Linked DNA regions of Homo sapiens. The protein of the gene in region 2 purifies or fractionates together with the protein of the main gene of each other region. This does not show direct contact. Each region holds a gene or a part of one and is shown on either strand. Other genes may lie near its edges.

Evidence for each region.
Region 1: the proteins of ASB11 (region 2) and UBE2F purify together in Homo sapiens (affinity purification with western blotting, with the first as the bait; one study listed by BioGRID). This does not show direct contact.

The regions. Positions count from the first base shown.
Region 1 is NC_000002.12:238,025,907-238,029,723, forward strand, and holds part of UBE2F (NEDD8-conjugating enzyme UBE2F), read left to right. Parts: intron 1-3,817. UniProt on the Homo sapiens protein: Accepts the ubiquitin-like protein NEDD8 from the UBA3-NAE1 E1 complex and catalyzes its covalent attachment to other proteins. Together with the E3 ubiquitin ligase RNF7/RBX2, specifically neddylates cullin-5 (CUL5).
Region 2 is NC_000023.11:15,312,818-15,317,126, forward strand, and holds the start of ASB11 (ankyrin repeat and SOCS box protein 11), read right to left. Parts: upstream 2,824-4,309; 5' UTR 2,789-2,823; coding exon 2,608-2,788; intron 1,743-2,607; exon of another isoform or gene 1,670-1,742; coding exon of another isoform or gene 1,552-1,669; intron 1-1,551. UniProt on the Homo sapiens protein: Substrate-recognition component of a cullin-5-RING E3 ubiquitin-protein ligase complex (ECS complex, also named CRL5 complex), which mediates the ubiquitination and subsequent proteasomal degradation of target proteins, such as BIK, DIRAS2 and RPN1.

The DNA.
Region 1 (3,817 bases), on a different chromosome or scaffold from region 2:
GAGCTTCATGCCTGCTGTGACTTGTGTCCCTGATCCCTGGCATGGGCAGAACGTCAGGCATCAGTGATTTCTCCTCCTAAGGCTGCTGGAAAAGTTGTGTAGGTGGATTGGTTGGTTTTTAAAGTAAGTTTCACATTTGGGCTTTATTTTTTCTGCACTTTGTCCCTTTCATCACTTTAAGGCAGCAAGGTTGATTGCAGGGGCTTTGATATCAGACCACCTGGACCTGAGTCCAGCTCGCCGCCCCCGCCCCCACCCCTGCCCGGCTGCCCGGGGCAGCTGTGGGACTTTAGGCTAGGTATTTGAACTGTATGTGCCTCACACTCAGCCAGTTTGGAAAGTAGGCACAAAGTGTTTTCTTAGCACATTTCTCCTACTTTTGACATGAAATGCAATTAGTGGCCTAAGTCATTTCTCATGCTCAACTTCCGTATCTCTTTTCTTTCATTCCTCTCTCCTTAGTAAACACTAATCACCTTTGAAAGGAAATGTGTAAACTGTGGCTGCTGGAAATCTTACCTCAGGATCCCTTTCTCTTTTTTTTTGAGATGGAGTCTCGCTTTGTTGCCCAGGCTGGAGTGCAGTGGCGCGATCTGAGCTCACTGCAAGCTCCGCCTCCCAGGTTCACGCCATTCTCCTGCCTCAGCGTCCCGAGTAGCTGGGACTACAGGCGCCTACCACTACGCCCGGCTAATTTTTGTATTTTTTAGTAGAGACTGGGTTTCACTGTGTTAGCCAGGATGGTCTCAATCTCCTGACCTTGTGATCTGCCCGCCTCGGCCTCCTAGAGTGCTGGGGTTACAGGTGTGAGCCACCGCGCCGGGCCGGATGCCTTTCTCTTCACAAGTACAGTTAGTGCCCATTTGCCCATTTCATTTTTGTATATACTGCTCCTTCTTCAATATCAGCCTCGTTTTTCACAGATGGTTAAAAATACATTTTACCAGACATACCTTTTTAAAAAAGCATCTTCCCTTTGAAGTATCTGTCCTTTACGTATTGAAACATTAAAATTCCACTATCTTTGGTTGCAGGTTATAAATGTGTTTGGCCCAGGCCCCCACTGCCCCGCTTCCTCCTGTGCTTGTGAGGACACCTGGCTCACTTTCTGGGGGGCCATACTCTACTTCCCTGTCTTGTCCCTGCCTTAGTCAGAAATGGGTCCAGAATAGGAAGCTCTCTTGTCCCTTTTGCCGTCTTCTGGGAAGTCAGATGATTAGCAAAGCCTTATAAGGATGAACAGATGGTATCCTGATATAAAAGCCAGACGTCTTAAGGAAAAAGATTGTCAGATTTGACCATGTAAAAATTAAAAACACAAAATGGAAGAAGAAATGATCAACTGGATTAACATCCTTGGTATGTAAATAGTCCTTACTATTCATTATAAAAAAGACGGATACTTCTCTGGAAAAATGTGGCATTGGCTACAAATAGGTGATTCATAAAAGGAGAAATAGAGGTGGGCAGTAAATATCTGAGGAGATGTTCACTCTCATCAGTAACCAGAGAAAGGCGCAGAAGACCATGAAGTGTGGCTTACCACTCACCAGATTGGCAGGCACAAAGGTAGATACTTGGTGGCTGGGGGAGGAGTGTGTGACAGAGAGCGAGCAGGCTCTCTTGTTGGAGGGTGTGTGTATTTGCACACCTTTCATTGGTCCTTCAGCCACGTAGACTACCTGTAACTCGTATGTACCCTTGGACTTGTCAGCTGCACTTCTAGGGATTTAATCTAAGGAAATAATGTGCCAGATTGATGTACGGGGACCACCTTGTTAGTGAAAAGCAGACAGTGTCCAGTGGCAGCTTTATGGTGTGTCCCGAATAAAGGGAAGGAAAAGCCCAACCGCACCTCTGGTTTGTGGTGACGCTGACAGCAGCTCATCAGCCCTTCCCACAGCAGGACTGATGGGTGCCTGGGGCTCCACAGGCCTTTCAGTGCTGGCACACAGGAGCACCTTCCTCTTTTAGAGAGATTTGCCCTGGCTCCACCTTGTTGTCCCGGCAGGGACCCTTCGCCTGCTCTGGCACAAGGTCAGAGGCTCCATGTCTGTGGGATTGGAGGGCCTAGGTCAAGAGCTCAGTCAAAGCTTCTCCTAGAGTCCAAGCTTCTATTACAGTTCGTGGGGTGTCCTTTGTCTCCTTGCTTAATGACATCTCTGATAGCCAAGTGTCTCTGTCTCCTGAGCTGTTGCTGGGACTATCCTCTGTGAGGCCAGGCTAGAACTTCCTCAGTGACTGGAGGCACTGCACCCCTGATGGGCCTCACTGCTGCCCAGACCAGTGGCCACCACATGCTGGGGCCGGCCTTGCCTCCCCATTACCTGCCCCAGCCAGATGCAAAGCCCTCCTGCTCTGGCTGTGCTGTTAACAGCAAAGCTCAGGGTGAGCTTCCTTCTCCTTCATTCAGCTAATGTTGATTGAGCTTAGGCACTGGCAGAGGAATTAGCATTCCCTGCTTTTATGGATGAAACAGGCATTCAACAAATAAATGACAAATATATAACTGAAGGTTGCATTAAGATCTATATAAGAAAATGATTAGCTAGATCAGAAATAATTCCTCCATTCAACAAAATATAGCCACTAGGATTTGACTTCATTCCCAAAAAAGTTATTCAGAAGTTGACAATTCAGATCCACAAGTCACCAATACCTCTGTAGGGTAGAAAGACGTCCACCCAGTTGGTAGGATACATGATTTGAGTTTTCCTTTTTTCTTTTTAAGGCTAAAAGTAAATTTTAATGGTCAATTTAAGGTTAGTTATCTGTTTTTTTTAACTGCTCTTCACAGACAATTAAGATTATAGCTTTGATTCAAACTCTACATATTTTTCTCCTGATCTGAATTGACTTTTGTGAATTTAAACATGCTCTAATTCAAAAAAGTTTATCAGAGGTAACAATTATGGATAAAGCCTGATATTTTATTTACAGATCAAAGCCACAGCACAATAATTCAACAAATACAAAAGTAATTTTATCTCCAGAAGGAAGCTTGGCAATAAATTATACTTTTTTCAAAGTATGGAATGATCATTTAATCCTTTTAAAATTATTTAAAATTTTTTTTTTACTTTTTAAGATTATTGGGAAAATGCTAATCTTCTCTGTATCATCCCAATTTGAGCATATGTGCTGCGGAAGTGAGCACTGGAATGATCATTTCCATGAGAGTATATGGTGTGCCTTTACAGCTGATAGACAGTAATGACCAGGACTCTCAGGTACCAGCTTCAGAAACAGGGCTTCATCAGACCTCTGAATCCTGGTGTGCCTTCCCTGAGCATGGGCCCCCCACCTAAGGAGTGATTGATACTCAGAATTTTGCATTAATCTTTTATCCTCAAGCTTTTTCTTTTGAACTTTAAAAAAATAAAAAAAAAAACCCAGTTACGGCTGGGCGTGGTGGCTCACGCCTGTAATCCCAGCACTTTGGGAGGCCGAGGCGGGCGGATCACGAGGTCAGGAGATCGAGACCATCCTGGTTAACACGGTGAAACCCCGTCTCTACTAAAAATTCAAAAAACAAAATTAGCCGGGCGTAGGTGGTGCATGCCTTGTAGTCCCAGCTACTCAGGAGGCTGAGGCAGGAGAATGGCGTAAAACCGGAGAGGTGGAGCTTACAGTGAGCCGAGATCGTGCCACTGCACTCCAGCCTGGGAGACAGAGAGAGACTCCGTCTCAAAAAAAAAAAAAAAAACCCAGTTATTAAAATGTCATATGCTGGGAGCTCCCATTGTTGTTAACCTGCATCAGCAGTGTTTCAGAATGTCGGTGCCCGTGAGCTGCCTGGGTTGGAAGAACAACATTG
Region 2 (4,309 bases):
TTCTTGATTTTTAATACACCTAAATATATTGTTATGGGATAATTTAGGAATTAGAGAGACTGAGGGGTTGAGGAGGATTTATTGTTTAGGTGTATTGGCCTAGTTGCATTAATATTTAAAGGACTGGGTTTTGAATAAAGAGTTGTTATTTTTTAAGTATTTTGTGGGGCGGGGGAAGATTTGTAATAATATAGTATCTGACTGTTAACAGTGGTATCAAAAGAAAAACACAGAACCATGTGAAAAATACTGGTCCAGGCATGTTACTGCCTACATTCTTATAGAAAGACTTATTTAGCGGCCAGGCACAGGTGCTCACACCTATAATCCCAGCACTTTGGGAGGCCAAGGTGGGCAGATCACTTGAGGTCAGGAGTTCGAGACCAGCCTGGCCAACATAGCGAAACCCCATCTCTACTAAAAATACAAAAATTAGCCGGGCGTGGTGGCGTGCGCCTATAATCCCAGCTACTCAGGAGGCTGAGGCACGAGAATTGCTTGAACCCCAGAGGAGGAGGTTGCACTGAGCTAAGATCGTGCCACTGAACTCCAGCCTGGGTGACAGAGCAAGAATCCATCTCAAAACAAACAAAAAAACAGAAAGTCTTATTTACCAAATCTTGGTAAATTTGGGGGTGGGGGGATTCGTGTATATGTATACACACACACACACACATATACATATATATATGAAAGAAATAAAACTGGGAAATTAACATGCACCATTCCCTGCCTCTTTAACAATAATTGAAAAATGTTTTTGACCTTAGAATACTATGCTACTTGCAAATTAACCTATTTTAAGAGATTGAACAAGTAAAGATATTTGCACTACAGAATGAACGAACTGTATTTAAGAGATTTGTATTCCAGCTCCAGATTAAATTCAAACCATGCTTACATGGGTTTTGACTATAAGGAGGTTTTATACCTTTTTTAAGAGTGCACTTGAGGCCGGGCGCGGTGGCTCACGCCTGTAATCCCAGCACTTTGCGAGGCCGAGGCGGGCGGATCATGAGGTCAGGAGTTCAAGACCAGCCTGGCCAACATGGTGAAACCCTGTCTCTACTAAAAATACAAAAAAATTAGCTGGGCATGGTGGCGTGTGCCTGTAATCCCAGCTACTCAGGAGGCTAAGACAGGAGAATTGCTTCAACCGGGACCTGGGAGGCGGAGGTTGCAGTGAGCCGAGATGGTGCCACTGCACTCCAGCCTAGGCTACAGAGCGAGACTCCATCTCAAAAAAAAAAAAAAAAAAAAAGAGTGCACTTAATTAAAGACCACAAAGACAGAAATAATGCGCAGGTGCAACAGGAGAAAACATTTGTAACATGTTCTTGCCAATATTGACTTTGTTGGACTTCATCTAATTTAGACCAGAAGAATGATTTATCTATGAGAACACCAAAACTATTATTGAAAATTTTAGAAAGCCCTTGCCCAAATTGACAAATTAAATTAGAAGATAACTTTTCAGATCATGCTTAACTTGAAACTTATCAGAAGCATTACTTTTTTTTTTTTTTTTTGTAACTAGTCAAAGTAACATACCTCCCTGAAATGTGTGACAAATATAATCCCCAAAAGAAATCTCTTTCCATGGTCCGGACCTTCTGATACGTTCTGAAACTTCACAATTCTTCTCATTTTCCCCAGTTAATTGAAGCATTCTGATGCTTCGTCCTTGGAGGTCTTATTTCTTTAGATAAGACTGCTGTTGTCTAGTGTCTTCTGAGTTGTCTAGTGTATTGGAATCACATAAGACTATTTTGAAAGAGAATCCTGGATGCAAATTGAAATGGATACTAGATAAAGAATGATGTAATCCTGGAACCCCTGCAAACACTAAAAATACACGGGGAAATTCTGAACTCTGTTTATGAATAAATACTCCTCTATTAAGTGACAATCCCAGGAGTGACAGGGATATCTGACTCATTTACTTTTGTAGCATCTCACCACAATTAAAGTAAATCATTTCTTGAAAGAAATGGACACTATTCTCTACAAAGCATGAGAATTTAAAATGTTTTGCCCAAATCTTGGCATTTCATGTTAGAATAAACTTTGTTTGGAGTGCTTTGCATGCTACCATATAAAATGGGTTTAGTGAAGAGCTTTTCCTGACAGTGACAAGTGGTTAATCAATTCCAGTTGCAAATGACAGCAAAAAAAATACACATAGCTTGCCACGTTTGCTGCTTTAATTATAATTTATTAGTCATTCTATTTCCTGAGAGAATTTAGTCTGGTTAGAATGCCCTTCATTGTTAAAGTTTGCTTTAAAATATTAAAGAAAATAATTATATACAAGTAATTACTTTGGCTAGTAGAAATGAAGTTTCTCAAAATACTCTTAGTAAGCCACTACCTATTTACTTCTTAAATAACAACTGCTACAAGATCTACGAACTTGCAAAAAATAAAGCTGAAAATCCTCCACAAATTGATGCAGCCAACAGCATTTGCTACTTTAAGTGACAATTTTTCAAACTACCCACTTAAAATCAAAGTATAAATATAATCTGCCTTCCAGAAATACTAGTCATATGAATTATCTAGGAGGGATTTTCTTTAAATATTAGGAACAAATTCATGTACTTTTACCTGAAATTCCACCATAGATCTCTTCTGCTATCCTAGCCGCTTCTTTTCTATTTCCTTTGACGATATAGAAATGGGTTAGGAGAGCCAAAAAAACTTTAATTAAAAGCTTAAAGAAAAAAAACGTAGCAAACATTGTAATAAAAATGTTTTTAAAGCCATAGAAAACAGGACCATCTTCCATTTTGGCTTATGCTCTGTATAGGGTCCTAGGACTGTAAAATTTCACTGAGTTATAATTGGTATCATATGACATCTATTTTAAACCTTCTAGCACTCAGTGCTCCTGTTACCGAGATCTCTGTAGGTTCTAATCTAACTGATTTGGCGACTGCATGTGCTGACTCCACAGCAGTGTTAAATAAACTAAAGAAACTTCCTTCTAACCAGAAACATCCAATAGTTCTAGAACTACATAACTCAGTACTATCTAACAGATAAGATTCATATCCAAACATTTTATATTCCTAAACCCCTATTTTTCCTATTTTATGTTAGAAAGCAGGGTTGGAAAGATAGAAACTTCTTGGCTTCCACAGAAACAAAGCAAGTTATTTGACATACAAAAGAAGTGCAAATATGCTGTATGTTCTAAGTGGGAAATACTACTCCCTGGAGCATTTCATTTTCTCTTAATTCTGAAGTTTATAGAGGATTAAATCCAAATCTAAAATATGACCAGTTAAAAAAGACCATTTACCTGGCCGGGCGCGGTGGTTGACTCCTGTAATCCCAGCACTTTGGGAGGCTGAAGCAGGCGGATCACCTGAGGTCAGGAGTTTGCGACCAGCCTGGCCAACATGGCGAAACCCCCGTCTCTACTAAAAGTACAAAAATTAGCTGGGCGTGGTGGCAGGTGCCTGTAATCCCAGCTACTCAGGAGGCTGAGGCAGGAGAATTGCTTGAACCTGGGAGGCGGAGGTTGCAGTGAGCCGAGATCGCGCCACTGCACTCCAGCCTGGGTGACAAGAGCAAGATTCTGTCTCAAAAAAAAAAAAAAAAAAGACAATTTACCCTAAAGCTGTATGTATGTATGTATGCATGTATGCACGTATGTATGTATTTAGTTTTAAGATGGAGTCTTACTCTGTTGCCCAGGCTGGAGTGCAATGGTGCGATCGCGGCTCACTGCAACCTCTGCCTCCTGGGTTCAAGCGATTCTCCTGCCTCAGCCTCCCAAGAAGCTGGGATTACAGGCATGCGTCACCACGCCTGGATAATTTTCGTATTTTTAGTAGAGACGAGGTTTCGCCATGTTGGCCAGGCTGGTCTCGAACCCCTGACCTCAGGTGATCCACCCACTTTGGCCTCCCAAAGTGCTAGGATTACAGGTGTGAGCCACTGCACCCGGCCAAGCCTGTATTTAATAAAAGGCCTATCTTGGATGCCTCTCCAAGTAAGTGTCACACTAGAAGCATCAGACTACTCGCCATGGTAGTTCCATCTGGGACAAGGTCCCATGGCAAGGTTCCCTCCTGATCATTCACTTGCATTTCAAGCATTGGTAAAGGTGGTGCCCATTTCTGAAAAATGTGGGCTATCCTTGATCATGGAAGAGTCATAGTGAAATGGACAAAAGAGATGCCCTAGGTTCTGGATGAAGTACCCAAATATTTCATGAATCAACCTTCTCTAGTTGGGCAATTTTCTCTTATCAGCTGGCCAACACAAGTGAAATGGGTTTATTTTTAGTTTTCCTCATCAC